Linked DNA regions of Homo sapiens. The protein of the gene in region 3 purifies or fractionates together with the protein of the main gene of each other region. This does not show direct contact. Each region holds a gene or a part of one and is shown on either strand. Other genes may lie near its edges. The genes, in order: COL14A1, KIAA0319L and IL31.

Evidence for each region.
Region 1: the proteins of IL31 (region 3) and COL14A1 purify together in Homo sapiens (affinity purification with mass spectrometry; one large-scale study listed by BioGRID and IntAct). This does not show direct contact.
Region 2: the proteins of IL31 (region 3) and KIAA0319L purify together in Homo sapiens (affinity purification with mass spectrometry; one large-scale study listed by BioGRID and IntAct). This does not show direct contact.

What each region holds. Positions count from the first base shown.
Region 1 is NC_000008.11:120,225,997-120,229,648, forward strand, and holds part of COL14A1 (collagen alpha-1(XIV) chain isoform 1 precursor), read left to right. Parts: intron 1-630; coding exon 631-770; intron 771-1,223; coding exon 1,224-1,356; intron 1,357-2,713; coding exon 2,714-2,773; intron 2,774-3,652. UniProt on the Homo sapiens protein: Plays an adhesive role by integrating collagen bundles. It is probably associated with the surface of interstitial collagen fibrils via COL1.
Region 2 is NC_000001.11:35,550,779-35,554,430, forward strand, and holds part of KIAA0319L (dyslexia-associated protein KIAA0319-like protein), read right to left. Parts: coding exon 3,572-3,652; intron 1-3,571.
Region 3 is NC_000012.12:122,172,045-122,175,796, forward strand, and holds the start of IL31 (interleukin-31 precursor), read right to left. Parts: upstream 2,178-3,752; 5' UTR 2,129-2,177; coding exon 2,113-2,128; intron 1,949-2,112; coding exon 1,800-1,948; intron 698-1,799; coding exon 368-697; 3' UTR 1-367. UniProt on the Homo sapiens protein: Activates STAT3 and possibly STAT1 and STAT5 through the IL31 heterodimeric receptor composed of IL31RA and OSMR. May function in skin immunity. Enhances myeloid progenitor cell survival in vitro.

The DNA.
Region 1 (3,652 bases), on a different chromosome or scaffold from region 3:
TTTTTTTTGTTTTTAAACTCTGACTTCAAATAATAAAAATCAATTCTTTGATAATTTATTTTGGGTGCAGTTGGGTGTTATACTTTCTGTTGTACATCCCAGAAGTGTGTAAGCTCTGAAACAGTGGAAGGCCTGATAAATTCTATTTCATTTCTGATGACCACCATATGTACAAGTTAAAAGATTGAAGTTTCTTTTCCAGGATTAATACCAGGGAGCAATTTAGCCACTAAAGCAAATAGAACTAAAAGGGAAGCTTTCTTAGGCCCCTATTTTGTTAATTTCCTCAAGATACTTGGAAAATAATATTTAAAAAAAAAATGAATATGGCACTCTTGTTTTTTATAGTTAATGAAAACAGCCAAATAGAAAAGCTAAGAGTTTTGGAAATTACTGGAAAAGTTTTAAGATCTGTTATTTCCATGGTTTCCCTAATTTATGATATTGGTGAATGCTGGAAACAGAAATGGAAGGCCACCCTGGACTGATGGGCCCCAGTTTTCCTTCTTTCCTGTGCTTTCCTAAAGCAAAAGATTCCTCAAAGAGTCTTCTACACCCCTGGGAGATACTTGGGTTTTGGCTTTCTTGCCTTCTCATTTCCCTAACAAAACCTCCTTCCTCGGTTTACAGAGGAAGTTCCAGCCCAGCAATACTTAGAAATTGATGAGGTGACGACAGACAGTTTTAGGGTGACCTGGCATCCCCTCTCAGCTGATGAAGGGCTACACAAATTGATGTGGATTCCAGTCTATGGGGGGAAGACTGAGGAGGTGAGTTTTCTGAAACAGACTGAAAATTAATCTGGAGCATTAGTGAATACCTACTGCTGCTGGAGTTGGTCTTCACTTTAAAATATATTAGGAATCCCAGAAGTAATTAGTATTTTACATGGCTTGGAGTTTTAGAAATGTCAAATCATAAGATTTTCCTAATATTATGATGTATTGTTGCCAGAGCTTTAGTTATATATTTATATATTTTCAGATTCTTTGACTTTAATAAATGACATTTAATACAACTTTAAAATGTCACTTTTGCAATATTAATAATTTATTTGCTGAGGGGATTGAAAGGAATAAAGTCTCTGGCTTGACCTTAAAATGGACTTCGACAGCCTTGGAGTTCTTTATGATTGGTTGTTTCTTGCTTATGCTCAGAATAACACTTTTTCTTTACTTTTTTTTCAAATAAGCATAGTTACTAAGCACCAAAATATATTTCAGGTTGTCCTGAAAGAAGAGCAGGACTCACATGTTATTGAAGGCCTGGAGCCCGGTACGGAGTATGAAGTTTCACTATTGGCCGTACTTGATGATGGAAGCGAGAGTGAGGTGGTGACTGCTGTCGGGACCACACGTAAGTCTTGGTCTGGCCACAGTGCGTTTTAGCTGCTCCCACAATCCCTCTTTACCCCATCAATTTCCTTCCCCATCTGCTTTATCTTTGGCTATGTAAGCTTCAATTTCTCTTTGTCCCCCAGAATTCTTCATATATCTTCACTTTCAATGAAACCAGTATGTGAAGCATCTTAGCTTCCTAGATAATGATCAACATGAAGGCAGGGACCATATCTGTGTTGCTCACCATTATATTTTCCAGGACTTAGCACAGTACTTGGCACATGTTAACTGTAGAGTAAACACCCATCAAATGGATGGATGGATAGATGAATGGATGTATGCAAGAATGGATAAAATAATTTACAAATGAATAGATTGCCAAACAAATAAACCTAGGGCCAACATGTCAAAGAGTTTCTGGAATTTTCCAAGTTGATATTGGTTCCAAGAGTCTTGTACAAAATTTACTTGCTGATTCATTCATCTCTTCATTTTTAAAATATGAGGTATTGACCACATATTAAATTGCCTTTGCCTGGGTTCCCTGGAACCAGATTCTAGACAGAAATTGCAGCCAGAAAGTTTATTGAAGAGTGCAGTTGGGAGATGCTTACGTAAAAAACTGAGGACAGCAGGAGGGGGCATGGGAAGAAGTTGAAACTGAACCCTCAGCTAATCTTATTATAATGGAGGTCTAGTGCTGGGATGACCCTTCTGAGTTGTCCCAAATTGAGACAAAGGGGCTGAGACTTCATACCCTTGCATCCCCAGTCGCTGGAGGTGAGCCATTCCCTGACAGAGGCCATGAACTCAGGCGAGACAGTTCCCAGAGCTGTGAACTGTTGGCAGGCAGTGTTCCAGCACCAAGTGGATTGGTGTGTTGACCCTAAAAAGAGGATCTGGGAAGAGCACCACATCTGTACTTCATTCTGCTATATGCCCACGGTGGCTGTAAGAAATAGAAGATGCATTGCTTGTCCAAGCACATTGCATTCCGTGGTGGTCCTGTTTGGCAGCCTTTTCACAACTTGGTCTACAGCACTGTCTAATTTCCCTTAATTACCATGGCTGTGCCCCTATTTCAAAGTAATTGGGTGGTTTCACAATTCTGTAGATGTAGTTCAAATGTTTATATGAAGCCTGGTATCTGTGATGAGAAACTTTAACATTCTTTGGGTTTCAGTTTTCTTATCTGTGGCACAGGTATGTCTGCCTTACTTACAATTCATTTCTTTCGTCTTCTAACCATTGTCATGTTTGTTGTGGGAGGCAAGTGAGATAATATAGGTGAAATGTTCTTTGAAAGCTACAACATGCTATAGAAAAATGGACAGTTGTTTTTGCAGCATTTTAAAGTAATATATTGCTTTTAGTTGACAGTTTTTGGACAGAACCAGCTACAACCATAGTGCCTACCACATCTGTGACTTCAGGTAAGGTCAAATAGTAGCCTGCTTAACCACTTTAAAAATTTTCTTTAAACAGATGTTATATTATCCTGGTTTTATTTATTATTAACTAGGAAAAGAGATGACCCTCCCTTCCTTTTCTGGCACACTGGTTCAAATTTCACGCCTCTCAGAGCCTCTCAACACCTTCCTTGCCACTAAATGCCCATGGATCTCCTAGTCAACTGATCTCACTGATACATCACTCTACCTCTTTCATCTTTGTCTGGATGCTCATGCACCTTACCTGGGATGTTAACGTAGCTGCCTCCCCAGGGGTCTTTGCCCTCCTCTTTTTTTTTTCTTTTTATTTTATTTTATTTTATTTTATTTATTATTATTATACTTTAAGTTTTAGGGTACATGTGCACAATTTGCAGGTTAGTTACATATGTATACATGTGCCATGCTGGTGCACTGCACACACTAACTCGTCATCTAGCATTAGGTATATCTCCCAATGCTATCCCTCCCCCCTCCCCCCACCCCACAACAGTCCCCAGAGTCTGATGTTCCCCTTCCTGTGTCCATGTGTTCTCATCGTTCAGTTCCCACCTATGAGTGAGAATATGTGGTGTTTGGTTTTTTGTCCTTGCGATAGTTTACTGAGAATGATGATTTCCAATTTCATCCATGTCCCTACAAAGGACATGAACTCATCATGTTTTATGGCTGCATAGTATTCCATGGTGTATATATGCCACATTTTCTTAATCCAGTCTATCATTGTTGGACATTTGGGTTGGTTCCAAGTCTTTGCTATCGTGAATAGTGCCACAATAAACATACATGTGCACGTGTCTTTATAGCAGCATGATTTATAGTCCTTTGGGTATATACCCAGTAATGGGATGGCTGGGTCAA
Region 2 (3,652 bases), on a different chromosome or scaffold from region 3:
GCTGGTCTCAAACCCCTAGGCTCAAGCAATCCTCCCATCTTAGCCCCCGAGTAGCTGGGACTAGAGACGTGTGCCACCACACCCAGCTTTTCTTTTAAAATATGAATTTTAAGACTGGATAGTATCCCACCATGTGGAGATGCAAAGATTTCACCACTCTCCTATAATTAAGCAGGTTTCAGCAATATTTTGCAGCACAGAATAAATGACTGTTGATCAGTGCTCTCATTCACAACTATCTAAGTGTATCCTTCAGATAAATTCTTAAATGAAGAATTAAGTCGAAAAATATGAATTTTTTTAGGGCTCTTGATATTTATGCCAAGAAGTTCTCTTTTCAAACTCCTCAGCACTATATGAGGACAACCACATCACCCCTTGGCAGCACTGGATAGTTTTACTTTAATTTTCATCAATATGATAGATTTAAAAGGATATCTCATTTTAATCTGTCGTTTTGATTGGTAATGAGAACGAACATTTTAAATATATTCATTTTAACTTCTTATTTATGGCACTCTGTTTATGCCTTTTATTTATTTGTTCTTTTTTCCTTTCAGATGGAGTCTCGCTCTGTTGGCCAGGCTGGAATGCTGTGGTGCGGTCTTGATTCACTGCAACCCCCGCCTCCCGGGTTCAAGCGATTCTCCTGCCTCAGCCTCCTGAGTAGGTGGGATTACATGTGCATGCCATCACGCCCGGCTAATTTTTTGTATTTTTAGTAGAGACGGCGTTTCACTATGTTGGTCAGGGTGGTCTTGAACTCCTAACCTCAGGTGATCCACCCGCCTCGGCCTCCCAAGGTGCTGGGATTACAGGCATGAGCCACCGCGCCCAGCCCTATTTATTTTTTCTATTAGGATATTCCTTTTAAAAAAAAAATGGGAAGGAGCTCCAATTAAATCAAAGTATATAACAAATATGTCTGTCACATGTTGCTTGCATGTTCCCTCAATTTGAACATACATGGCTCTTGATCTTTTAATTTCCATGATAAAAGCTCCAAATTTTTCTAAAATAGAACTGGCATAACCTAATCCCCACCAGAACTACACCTAACACCACCACCTTTGCACTTCTATACTTAATTAGGGTGCTGTTTTTAAGCACCAAGCTCAAGGTTACTAAAGACTTGCACAATGAGCCTACAATGCTGTGTTTAACCAAGTGCTAGATTGGAAAGCACAGAAAGACTTGGAATTGCTTCTTCATCCTCTATACTTTGAATCCCTCAAATAGGAAGCTGCTTACCATGGTACTGGGTAAAAAAAAAAAAAAAATTGCCACCAGGCATGGTGGCTCACGCCTGTAATCCCAGCACTTTGGGAGGCCAAGATGGGCAGATAACGAGGTCAAGAGATGGAGACCATCCTGCCAACATGGAGAAACCTGGTCTCTACTAAAGATACAAAAATTAGCTGGGTGTGGTGGCATGCGCCTGTAGTCCCACCTATTCGGGAGGCTGACGCAGGAGAATCACTTGAACCTGGGAGACGGAGGTTGCAGTGAGCAGAGATCGCACTGCGCCACTGCACTCCAGCCTGGTGACAGAGTGAGACTCCGTTTCAAAAAAAAAACCTTTGGTCCTCCAAAACATCCCCTATGGTTGGAAGGCAGAGTACCAGAAGAGAAAGAGTATGAGCTCTACAGTGGACAAACCTGGATTTAGAATCCTACCTCCACCATGTTCTTGCTGTGTGACCTTGGCCAAGTCATTCTGCCTCTCTAGGCCTCAATTTCCTTATCTATAAAATGAGAAGAAAACTATCTATTTTTGGGTTATCATGAAGATTAAATGAGATAAGGTATGTAATGTTTACAATTAGGAGTCTGGTATGTGGTAGGTGTGCTTCAAAAAATGTGATTTACACCAGGCATGGTGGTTGGTGTCTGCAATCCCAGCTATTCAGTAGGCCAAAGTTGGAGGATCGACTGAAGCCAGGAGTTCGAGACCAACCTGGGCAAAACAGCAAGACCCCATCTCCTAAAAAAATGTACAAATTAGCCAGGCAGACGGGTGTAGTTGCTCACATCTGTAATCTCAGCACTTTGGGAGGCCGAGGCATGCAGATCACTTGAGGTCAGGAGTTTGAGACCAGTGTGGCCAACATGGCAAAACTCTACCTCTACTAAAATATAAAAAGGATAAAATATAAAAATTAGCCGGGTGTGGTGGTGTGCGCCTGTAATTCCAGCTACTCAGGAGGCTGCGGCAGGACAATCGCTTGAACCTGGGAGGCAGAGTTTGCAGTGAGCCGAGATTGTGCCACTGCACTCCAGCCTAGATGATGGAGTGACACTGTCTTAAAAAAAAAAAAAATTAGCCAGGCATACTAGCTCATGCCTGGAGGCTGAAGCAAGAGGACAGCTTGAGCCCAGGAGTTTGAGGCTGCAGGCAGCTATGATGGCACCATCGCACTCCAGCCTGGGTGACAAGACCCCATCTCTTTTTTTTAAAGAAGTGATTTTTCCCTATTCTGATGGTGCTAAATCAATTACTTATTTAATTCTAATGATCTTATATAAAATGTTGACCTGAAATAGTCAGCTGTCCCAGCAAAGCATCATCTGGGGTAAAAAAAAAAAAAAACCATGTAGATCAGCTTTCTGTCAAGTACAACTTCCACTGCTATAATTATGCAATCATCAACCATCACTGCAAGACAACAAAAACCCCAAAGCTGATGTTACTGAAATTGCTAAATACAATAATTACTAGGGTCTCAAAATCATGACCACCAATTCCTTTAGGAAAGCAACAGAAATCTTTGTAATTATAAGGGAAAAAGGCTGATTAGTTATCCCAGATGGTGGTCTCTACAGCAGAAGGTTTTTGGTCACTGGCCAGAATGGCAGCATACACAGAAATCTTTCTCATATTGCTGTTTTCTCACACTCATACTATGAAAGCACAATATCAACAAAAGAACTTGAAAGAAAGAAAGAAAGAAAGAAAGAAAGAAAGGGCATTCTCCTTTGAAATTTAGCCTTCTTGGCACTGATTCCTGGCAAGAGGCTTTACCCTGGTGAAATAATCTCTAGGAGGAAAGCATAGTCTAAAAAATCTATCAACATAGCCCCTCTCTATGGAAAAAGTAAGGAACGCATTTTTCCCATAAGTGTAGATTCCTTTAGGAAAGGAAAGGAAGCTCAAGACCAGCCTGGGCAAATAGCAAGACTAAGCACCCATGCTGAGTGCTGTGCTACATGCTTTAATTATACTATCCCTCAAATCAAACCATGAGGTAGATAATAACCCTTCCTCAAAGATAATAGGTAATTTGCTCAAGGTTTTATAGTCATTAAGTGGAAATACCCAGTTGACTTTTATCAAGTCTTAAAACGGTTGTGCCAATTCTCCCTTATGAAAAAGAATCCAATTTAAACTCTGGTTCCAAAACAAAACAAATAAATAAACCCAACAGACCTCAGTCACCAAAAGGATGACCATTTCTGTCAATTAGCAGATTGTTTTTTCTGCCTCCTAATAGTCCTTAAAATGAACTGAGGGACTCACATAAAATGCCCTTTTCTAAAAAAAAAAATCTTAAATCTATAAAGAAAATAGTACCTGTTGACAACCACAGAACGCTGAAGCAAAAGCAAGTATAAAACAGGTACAGGCTTCTCAACCACTTCGCAGATGTCTGCC
Region 3 (3,752 bases):
ATATAATTTATTAAATAGATTCCGAGGGCTCCCCCAGGGAGCATTGACAACTCTTAGTACAATAAATATCAATAAATTAACATAGCTGCCACCTCCCACCCTCACGAGGGTATAATAAGTAAGACTTAAGCCTGCAGAAGAAAAGCATTCCATAAATACCAAGACTAATAACAATAACCTAATGTTTTTCAAGGTAATTCACAAATTCACATCTCAGCCCTCCCGGGACTAGCCCATATGAGGGGTCCCTGAGATTATTCATTGGAAAAATGTACTTAAGGAATCACGGCAGAGTTCCCACACTTAGCTGTCGGTCATCTTTTTAAGGCTCCTTAAGTTCCTGCCAATCCGAAAGGAAGAGATGGCCTTAAGTGGTGGCCTGTTGGGCTCCAGAGGTCAATGATTTTAGTGCGAGGTCCATGCACTCTGAAAACTGTTGAGAAATAGTCAGGATGAAGCGTTTACATTCATGGGTGTCTGTTGGCACAGAAATGTTTGTTTCTGGTGCATCTTGAAATATGAGTTTGTCGAGGTGCTCTATGATCTCATCAATAACAGATTTGTTGTCTAGCTGTCTGATTGTCTTGAGATATGCCCGGATGGCTGGGCTGTGGATGTTGTTTGGCGGCTGGGCGTCAGGGCTGAGACACGGCAGCGTGTAATTCTGGGACACGAGCACGCCCTTCTCTTCCTCCACCTGTGGAATGAGGAGAAATGGTCAGTGTTGGGTTTGCAATGACAGCTGCAAGTCTTAACAGTGAATGTTTGCATGCTTCCTCCGTAACCCGCCTCGTTGATATATTTATCTGATCAATGTCACAACCCTATGAGGCTGTGCCATCACCAACCCCATTTCCAGATGAAACTAGAGCTTAGGTGGCTGCAGTCCTGAAGCCTGTGCTCAGAACCACTGATCCATCCAGCTGAGGCCTCCCAGCCTTCCAGAACCCACTCTCACGTGCTCAGGGTGGTGGGAATTGCAGCACATCTGGCCTTCCATGGCAGCTCCCCGCCCTTTGGGACTCTGTGTTAAAGCCACGCACGCTCCACTTATAAAGGAGAGTGTTAGGCTTGTCCGGAAAGGCCTCCGAGATGCAGGCGAGAGTTTTCCCCAACAAACCAAGGAGTCCGGACCACTCCCTCCCTTCCTCTTTCTAAGTACTAACTAGAGTCAGACCAAATTGCCAGCAGCACCTCATCAACCTGAACTGCCCAGTCATCTTGGGTTGGTAACAACCTCTGCCTTTTATAAAAGCCAAGGCTAAGGTCTAAATACCAAGGCAGATGAGAAGAGTAATGCCAATTTTATGAATTGTTTCCAAGTTTGGGCATTTGTTTGTTTGATCAAAGCTATCTTGGCTGGGCACAGTGGCTCACGCCTGTAATCCCAGCACTTTGGGAGGCCAAGGCAGGCGGATCACTTGAGGTCAGGAGTTCAAGACCAGCCTGGCCAACGTGGAGAAACTCTGTCTCTACTAAAAATATGAAAATTAGCTGGGCGTGGTGGCGCATGCCTGTAGTCCCAGCTACTCGGGAGGCTGAGGCAGGAGAATCGCTTGAACCCAGGAAGCAGAGGTTGCAGTGAGCCAAGATTGCACCACTGCACTCCAGCCTGGGTGACAGAGTAAGACTCTGTCTCAAAAAAAAAAAAAAAGCCATCTTTGCCTGTCTAGTTTCCCCCATCCCTTCCTGGCATAGCTACAGCCCTGGTTTCAGGTCCGGAGAGAGGAGCCTCTTTGGAGGGCAATGGAAGGCATTTTTAAGAAATCGTTTAGAAAAGAAATCTCTAGGACACTCACATCTTTCAAAAGCATCTTCGAGAGGGACTGTAATTCCTCGACTATTTTCTGTACATCATCACTTGGTCGTAGTAAACGGACGGGCAACGTGTGGGAGGCCAGCCAGCCTCCCAGGCAGCAGAACAGAAAGAGCACAGACGTCGAGGGGCCTGGAGAGAGAACGATGCCGTGAGCGCATACATCACACACCCCTGCCCACCCTGGCTCCATCCCTGCAGCCCTGCTGAGCCAACCCTGGGGGTAGTGCTTCCAGAATCTTCCTGGTGAGATAAGATGATGCCCAAGACTCCGGAAGCACCAGGACCAGTGATACCTGAGTGAGAGGCCATGGCGAGAGAGAGCAAGGCCAGCTTCAGTGGGGGCTTCTGGAGCCAGATGTGTTCGCCATGGCTGCCTGGAGGTATATAAAGGGCCAGGGTGAGGAGAAAGAGCAGTCAGCGTCCCGCCCATGGCAAAACCATTTACTCAGCTTTTCTCCAGAAAACACTCAAAAGTTCTACTGGCCACGGCTGAGTGAAAGGGCTGAATGGAAATGCTGAGGTTACCCTCCAGGTGGGCAGATGCCTGACTCAGACACACACATACTTCACAAGAAGGCACATGAATGCATCTTTGCCATTCTTCTTGGAAGGAGCCTGTTGATTTGACTAGACAAAATTTTGAAGCCCAGGGTTGACAGACACGACCATACCACCAAGGAGCGGGTGACTTCCAGGAGTTCAAGGCCAGCGGCCACAGGGAATTTCTGGGGAGGAAATGCGAAGCCGGCATGAGATGTGCAGAATGCGGTATCTCTGGAAATTTCTGCAGCATATGCCCACGCCGGTGTGCAGGGACGGCCCCATAACTGCTGTGAATGTGGCGGGTCGAAGGCTTCATCTCAACTCCATGTGGCCTTGGACATCACTGGACTCTCCATCGTGCCTCTGCAATCTCAGGGCCCAGAACCAGAGACTGTGATCCAGAGTTATTGCTTGAAATCCTTGTTCATATCTTTTTTCTTTTTTTTTTTTTTGAGATGGAGTCTTGCTCTGTCACCCAGGCTGGAGTGCGGTGGCGTGATCACTGCAACCTCTGTCTCCTGGGCTCAAGCAATTCTCATGCCTCAGTCTCAGCCTCCCAAGTAGCTGGGACTACAGGCACGTGCCACCATGCCCAGCTAATTTTTGTATTTTTAGTAGAAATGGGGTTTCGCCATGTTGGTCAAGCTGGTCTCTAACTCCTGACCTCAGGTGATCTGCCTGCCTCGGCTTCCCAAAGTGCTGGAATTACAGGCATGAGCCACTGCGCCAGCCTAGAAACTTTATTGCTTTTCTTTCTTTCTTTCTTTCTTTCTTTTTTTTTGAGACAGAGTCTTGCTCTGTCGCCTGGGCTGGAGTGCAGTAGCGCAATCTCGGCTCACTGCAACCTCCACTTCCCAGGTTCAAGCAATTCTCTTGCCTCAGCCTCCTGAGTGGCTGGGATTACAGGCGCCCACCACCACGCACAGCTAATTTTTGTATTTTTAGTAGAGACGGGGTTCACTATGTTGGCCAGGCTGGTCTCAAACGCCTGACCTTGTGATCCACCTGCCTCCGCCTCTCAAAGTGCTGGGATTACAGGTGCGAGCCACCACTCTGGCCTTAGAAACTATTTCTAAGTTCATTAGCTTTCTTTTTCTTTCTTTTTTTTTTTTTTTGAGACAGGGTCTCATTCTGTCACCCAGGCCAGAGTGCAGTGGCATCATCACAACTCACGGCAGCCCCGATCCCCTGGGCTCAAGTGATCCTCCTACCTCAGCCTCCCAAATAGCTGGGACCACAGGCACAAATCACTATGCTAATTTTTTTTTTTCTTTTTTGAGACAGAGTTTCGCTCTTGTTGCCCAGGCTGGAGTGCAATAGCACGATCTCGGCTCACTGCAACCTCCGCCTCCTGGGTTCAAGCGATTCTCCTGCCTTAGCCTCCCGAGAA